Linked DNA regions of Homo sapiens: region 1 is reported to be linked to region 2. The links are microRNA targets in miRTarBase. Many come from high-throughput screens and were not tested one by one. Region 2 holds a microRNA gene; the other region holds the end of a gene's coding sequence.

Region 1 (3,401 bases), not on the chromosome of region 2:
AATAGAAGGTTTGGTTTAAAACAAAGTACTAGTCAAAGAAGGGCTGGCAAAGAGATATTACCCTCTTTGGTTTCAACCTTAATAACGTAAAGAAAAAGAACACATATTTAGAGGCATGAATATGACAAATTTTTTATTTCAAAAATCTCAAGTTGTAACCAGCATAGCACCACTGACATGGATGCCTTGATAGAACTCCTTGATAGAACTTTATGATCTGTTCACCAGAAAAGATTCTACATGATCACGCCAGACTATAATTAAGGCTAACCAATCAAAATTCAGGTACCCAAAACCAGTTATAATCCAGGTAGAAACTACAGATCATAGGAACCCTGGGACTGGTTTTCCAGGGAACCCTGGAATTATTTTTTAAGTGCTACAGCATGTACAAGGACACTGGCCCACAAGCTTGCTTCTCACACGTAGAAACTGACAGACTAAGAGGTAGATGAGAGATTCCAGGTTCCATCTAGCAGTGGAGAGGCAGGGCTCCAGCATGTATCAGAGATAAGCCCCAAAAGCAAAGTCCACTTATGCTTCAGCAGAGGTAAGCGGGCAGGCTCCTGGCACCACCTCCTCCAAATGGAAGGGAAGGAGGGCTGCACCGCTCTGCCTGTGTCACTGGCTCCTCTCCCTGGGTCCAGGCAGGGCCTCTCATTTTCTCCAGGCTAACCCACTGTGTCCCAAGGTTAATCTCACAAGACACTGGTCCCTACATCATGTAAAGGGTGGATGGGGAGCCTCCTAACACCATGTCAACATGACTGCTAACAAGGAGCCACACACACAACTGAATTTCACAGGACCTCATATCCTCCAATGGGCTCTTTCCCACATCTACTCGAAAGGAATCGTGGGTTTCCCTTTGGGCTTTTCTTCCTGGGAATCAGTCCATGGGAGATGCCAAGCGCCCCTGGAACATGAAATTATCCACACATGTGTAACTGCACACTCTAGATTAACAGGAGAGAAAACACGCTCATTTTTGTTTCCAGCTACACATACTTAGCTTTCTAAACACAAAAACTGAATAATTTATCTGATTTATGAATGATGGTTTGGTATGTCTAAGAAAGCTATATAAAACATAAAATGAACTCATGTTCATGCATGAATTAAACTGACTTCATGAGTTCTAGGGAGACGCATTAACCTGTGCTGTTCCCCTGGACGCACACTTGGCCTCATACAGGTGCCACTAACAGCCCTGATGGCAGTGTCAGAGGACAGCAAGGTGAGGCTGGGGAAGTGAGGCTGTAGGGCCCAGAGAGGCCCTAGTGCCTCCAACAGTCTCAGATGCTACTTGATTACTTCTATGCTATGGGCTGCTAACTCTTACATAGCCTAGAAAATATTTACCCATGAACACTACCATGTTTGGATTTCAAACAACTTTAAACATTTGGTATCAGATTGGGGGAGCAACAAATAATAAAATTTAGGGTCTGTACTGTTAAAAGTATAGTATATAACAGTAATAAAACCTGTGTGGGGCATTTTTGGTTAATCTGTCGTCGAAAACGGTAATCTAAACCTGGGAGAGTTGCTATATGGGGAGGGGAGAGTGAAGAAATGGAGAACAGGCTTGTCCTCGGGTAGGATGTGTCAGCCTAGACTGGCCCTCAACATCTGGACGGAGCAACAGGTAAATGTGCCATGGAAGACCCCACAAAACATGACTCCACATCAGCAGAACAAAGACAAACACAAGTCTTTTCTGACTTCCTAACATGGAACTGTAACATCTGTAATACAAGTTGGTTAAAATACTGCTCAAACAGCACATAGGGAAACAATACCTTGTCACTCTCTACAAGTACACACTCCATTTACAATTTGGTTTTTAAACCAGAAAAAACTGTTAAAACATCTATCCAACAGTGATGTATTCAAAAGTATATACATCTAATAGTCCAAGAGAATGCTCACTCTGGACCCAGTGTCAGCACCAAAGTGCAGTGTTTATGACTGCAAATCAGGTAAAAATAAAAAATACAGTACTTTGAGGCCTAGGACTAGCTCATGATACACTTTAAAGCATTTGTGGCAGACAGGTGTGTCCTCAAAGGCCTTCCTTTAAGACAGGCACCAAATCACCACTGGTTACACATAAGTGCATTTTGCATCACTATACAGGGATATAATACTCCCATCAGAAGGTATAGGAAATTTAAATGCTACACAGTTTTACAAAAATTGCTAAAAAATTTTTTTTGCACTTCAATTTTTAAATTTTTAAATGTGCCACTTTTAATATCAATTACAAACTACTTTCTGACTGCATTACTCAACCCCAAGGAAGCACCTGGTTTCAGGGATTGCATCCCTTTCCCAAGACGTGCACTTCACTCAGAAATGCAGCAGCACAAATACTACATGTTAGTTCTCCGGTTATTAGTTGCTAAACTGTTTAAGAGCCACTGGGCAGCTGGAAGCCTCGAACCCAAAGGCATTAACTGCTTACCAAAAGAAATTCAGTCTGACAACTGGCCTCAGCGTTGTCTTGTAAGGACAAACAGCTAGAGCAAAGTGCTGGGAAGATTGCTGCTCTGCCAGCGCAGGCAGGTAGTCTTTGAGTGCTTATACAGGTGGCTGGACTGACTAAACCTCTTGCCACACTTCAGGCAGGCGTAAGGCTTTTCACCTGTGTGAACACGGATGTGCTTCTTGCAATCTGTCAAAGTCAGAAAAGTTTTGCAGCAGATTTTGCAGGCATACTTGCGAGCTCCCTCTACAACCAAAACATTGTGCTCTGATAAGGCCTTCTTGCACTTTGACAGAACATCTGCAGATGCCCTGGTCAACTGTGGAGGGCCAGGCTGGGAAGGATGGCCATTTTCAAATGAGGACGTAGCTCCATTCATCATTAGCTGAGAACTGGTAGAGTTTTCTGGGATCTGTGAGCTCCTGACGGAAGTTACAACTGGCATTTTGGGAGCTATGCGGCGGTAGTAAGGAAAGTTACTGGCTCCTCCCCTTGGGGAACCTATCATTACCCTGGAGAAGGAGGAGTGGAGGCCCAAACCAGACCTGGAAAAGTCCATCCCAAACTGTTCTCCTCCTTGGTAGCCTGAAGTCTGCACACACGGCAGGCCCATCACCTCCTGCATAGGCCTGACGAAGTGGGAGTCTGCAGGTTCACTAAATGGGTTCTCTACATGGGAGCCAGGGGCAGAGGAGGGCCCACCTGCAGGCCCAGCCTCTGGACTCAACAAATAGGGGGCCTCACTCTCCAGCCTGCAGTCACTAGTGGTGTTTGGAATATTATCATCATTGTTCTGATTTGCAGTAAAGTTATTTCCTCTGCTCTTGTTAAGAAAATTCGAAATACTAAAAGTGGACTTATGCTCTAGGTTATTTGTGACTTCCAAAATATGGATATCACCTACCCTGTCTGT
Region 2 (3,401 bases):
TGTACAGAGTTCACAGTAAGAAGGTGAACTACTACCACGACAAAAGCTCCCTAAAATCCAGCTTGAGACCCCAGGGTACTATTTAAATATACTTATCCCTCAGTATCCATAGAGGATTAGTTCTAGGACCCACTACAGATATCAAAATCCACAGATGCTCAAGTCCTTTATATAAAAATGGTGCAGCATTTGCATATAACCTACACTCGCCTCCAGTATCCTTTAAAGTCAGAGGACCTCAACTCCCAGGCCACAGACCGCTACGAACCCACTATGAATCTGTGGCCTGTTAGGAACCAGGCCGCACAGCAGAAAGTGAGTGACAGGCAAGCAAGCATTACCACCTGAGCTCCACCTCCTGTCAGATTGGTGGTGGCGTTAAATTCTCATAGGAGTGCGAACTCTACTGTGAACTATGCATGGAACTATGCATGCAAAGGATCTAGGTTGCCTGCTCCTTATGAGAATCTAATGCCTGATGATCTGAGATGGAACGGTTTCATCCCAAAACTATCCCCTCCCCAAGTTCATGAAAAAATTGTCATCCACGAAACTAGTCTCTAGTGCCAGACCGCTTCTTTAAATAGTCTCTAGATTACTTATAATACCGAATACAATGCTATGCATCACCTCATTCTCATGGATTCAATGTAGTTCTCGGCACACGGAAAATTCAGTTTTCCTTTTGCAATATTTTCAAATTTTTTTCCCCAATATTTTTGATCCAAGGTTGGTTGAATCCACAGATGCTGAACCCATGGCTATGGAGGGCTGAATGTATGTTGGATTACATGCTGGCAATCCCTTCTTCCAAAGTTAAATGAGGTCCAAGTTCTACCCAACTCTAAATTGTACTATATCTGAACCATCTAAGAATCCCTCATTTTACAGAGGAGAAAACTGAGGCCCAGAGAAAAGTAATTGTCTACAAGTTCTAGCACTGACAGTGGCAAGGGCACAAGAATGCTGTCCTCTCTGCACACCATGTCATGACCATGCCAGCTAGGAAATGCACTGGGCCATCTTCACCTCGGGGACCACACTTCACACAGCACTGTTCCTCTCCTTAATTGCTGATTTTAGAAAAAATGTCATTTTTATATGCATCTAATTGGTGGTAACTGGCATGACTCTGAAGTAGCCAATCTATGGAAGAGGTAATAATTGTCCTCTGACAACTGGCTCCCCGTTATTGGGCTCATAGCTATCTTTCTAAGCCAGCTGAATATGCTTAAGTACAAAGTTTTGACTTTCCAGAGGAAAACTTCTATTTCTTACCTTCTGCATCTGCAGATCAGATTTGGCCATTTCCGCAAAATAATCAGTGGGTCGCTTCGTAGGGACTTTGAGCTGATGGAGGCGGGGTAAGACTGCAAGCACTGCGGCCTGGGCTTGGCGATAGCTGAGAATCGTAGGACAAAATGTGTAATGAGGTGAAGGAGGAGGCCTTACGTTCCTTTTCACCGCCAATCATGAGTTATCCAAGCTCAGAAGGACTCTCAAAATCTGACCTCCATTAGCAAGAACAAACAAACAAAAACTGTCTCACTGATTTAGTATCTAAAAGAAATGTAGCCGTATACTAGTTTTTAAAAAGGGGAGGGGTGTTGCTAAAAATAGTTTAAGAGAATGACTACTCTAAAGGTACCCATTAACACAAACGAATGTCGATTATGGATTCTTATGTAATTACTAAAGCAATTCCACACAAGAACATCCCATAAGCAATGTTTGTTTGTTTGTTTTCCTAATAACTGAAGCATGCACAAAAAGTTTTAACATGAATATTTCAAATTAGCCCATAAAGTGGATTTTGGATCGTGACCGTGGACCAAAGAGCTCTTCTCTCAAACAGGAAGAATCTCCTAGCTATTCTTAGTCAAAAGAAGCCGCTCTCTCTACTCCTAGGCTTATTCTGAGTGCAGACTTACTAATTTCCCCTCTTTCCCACTCTCCTGCACAAGGATCCTCAACTTCTCCAACATTTGAAAACAAACATACAAACTCATCTCTCGCTGGAAGTCGTCTTCTGGATCAACAGCTTTCTGGTCCTTGTTCTGAGGTGCTGGCGCCTCAGATCCACCGATCTCCGGTACCGGACCCAGTGTCACATCGAGCCTTTCAACCCATTCCAGATCCCGCTTGAATTCTGCCAAACATTGCTTCAGGCCATTCTAGGAAATCCAGACACTGAGCTCACAAGAAGGGAACTCTGAGTTTGTCTTTCCCAAGCACAGGCTGTTAGGCGAAGGGACAAAGTGCTAATCCCCAATACCCAGACAGGTAATTGACCCTCTTGGCGAGGCGCAGGGTGCATCTTTCCTGGGACAAGAATCGGTCTCCCAAGCCCAACAGCGCCTGAAGCGCATCCCATGTCCGAGTACCCCCGACCCTGTGCCCACGCTCACCACGTCGTTCACGGCCTTCTTCGGCCCCTCTAGCACGACATTGAGGCCTGGCTTCAGAAGCCCTCGGGAAAACGCATCCTGCAACTGCAGGACACAATCACGGTCACTCCCAGGGGTGTAAGGCCCCCTCTCCCACGCCCAGCCCCACGAGCTCGGCTGACACCTACCTCTCTGTCTGTGACAAGGGATTCATCGGATTCCGACTCCGAATCCGAGAGCGGGGGAGTGTCCATCTCGCCGCACGCACGTCCCACACCTACAGGAAGAAACGGGGTATCCCGAGACCCAAGCGGCTAGCAGAGGGCGGCCCTGGCCGCTGCTGCCTGCCTTCAGCCCCCTACTCCCACGCCGTGGCTCCACGTGCCACCGAATCGCTCCAGCGCCAGCAACTCACAGCTACTGCTCAACTTTTGATTGGGACTTCCGCTTCCGGCGGCAAACCATACTTCCGGTTTGTCGTTGCTATAGGAACCGCTACGGCGTTTGAAAGTGTCCGGGTTGCTTAGGATCCCTACAGGTAGCGCCTCTGGATACATGCGTGGTCTGCTGACCCAGAGAGAAACGAAAGGTGGGAGGGGGTACCTGGGGGTCGCCAGAAGGAGCTGGTAGCAGTGAGGGTACAAAGGAAAAGGCAGAAAAAGGAGCCGCGGGGGTGGGGTGGCGCGGAGGAGGACCCCGGGGGAGGGGAAAGGGGAGGGACAAGGGGAGGGGAAAGGGGAGGGACAAGGGGAGGAGAAAGGGGAGAGACAAGGGGAGGAGCAAAGGGCGGGGAGGGCGAGTCCGGGCCGGGGGCGGGGTCGGAGCGGGGCGGTGCTCTCCACTCTGAAGCGCTGCCTTGGTCTTCAGCAGAACTGTTTGGCGGGAGATCATGTCAGCCGTGGTAGCTCAGACGCTGCATGTTTTTGGTCTTCGATCCCACGTGGCCAACAATATCTTCTACTTCGATGAACAGATCATTATATTTCCTTCAGGAAATCACTGTGTGAAGTACAA

What was found. Region 2 holds the annotated microRNA hsa-miR-6733-3p (UCAGUGUCUGGAUUUCCUAG, at 2,175-2,194, opposite strand). A microRNA usually pairs through its seed, bases 2 to 8, with sites in the 3' UTR of a target mRNA and lowers its output. Matches are read on the target gene's strand: a 7mer-m8 pairs with bases 2 to 8, a 7mer-A1 pairs with bases 2 to 7 and ends in A, and an 8mer does both.
Region 1: miRTarBase lists ZBTB5 as a target of hsa-miR-6733-3p. Seed matches in the 3' UTR shown: 7mer-m8 at 1,941-1,947 and 7mer-m8 at 1,218-1,224.

Annotation. Positions count from the first base shown.
Region 1 is chr9:37,437,996-37,441,396 of GRCh38, forward strand. It overlaps ZBTB5 (zinc finger and BTB domain containing 5), which reads right to left. Exons shown (of 2, transcript NM_014872.3): 2 at 107-3,401. The coding sequence ends at 2,523. It also overlaps a transcript of GRHPR not described here. Among named protein-coding and RNA genes, the nearest start is that of GRHPR, 17 kb to the left of the region's middle.
Region 2 is chr1:43,169,478-43,172,878 of GRCh38, forward strand. It overlaps MIR6733 (microRNA 6733), which reads right to left and starts at 2,235; the gene lies at 2,175-2,235. It overlaps EBNA1BP2 (EBNA1 binding protein 2), which reads right to left and starts at 2,813. Exons shown (of 9, transcript NM_006824.3): 1 at 2,576-2,813; 2 at 2,409-2,492; 3 at 2,002-2,174; 4 at 1,279-1,402. The coding sequence starts at 2,641. CFAP57 (cilia and flagella associated protein 57) reads left to right here and starts at 2,853. Exons shown (of 23, transcript NM_001378189.1): 1 at 2,853-2,976; 2 at 3,258-3,401. The coding sequence starts at 3,277. RefSeq lists enhancers at 1,888-2,524, 2,350-2,579, 2,525-3,160, 2,710-2,839, 2,920-2,969 and a silencer at 3,080-3,279.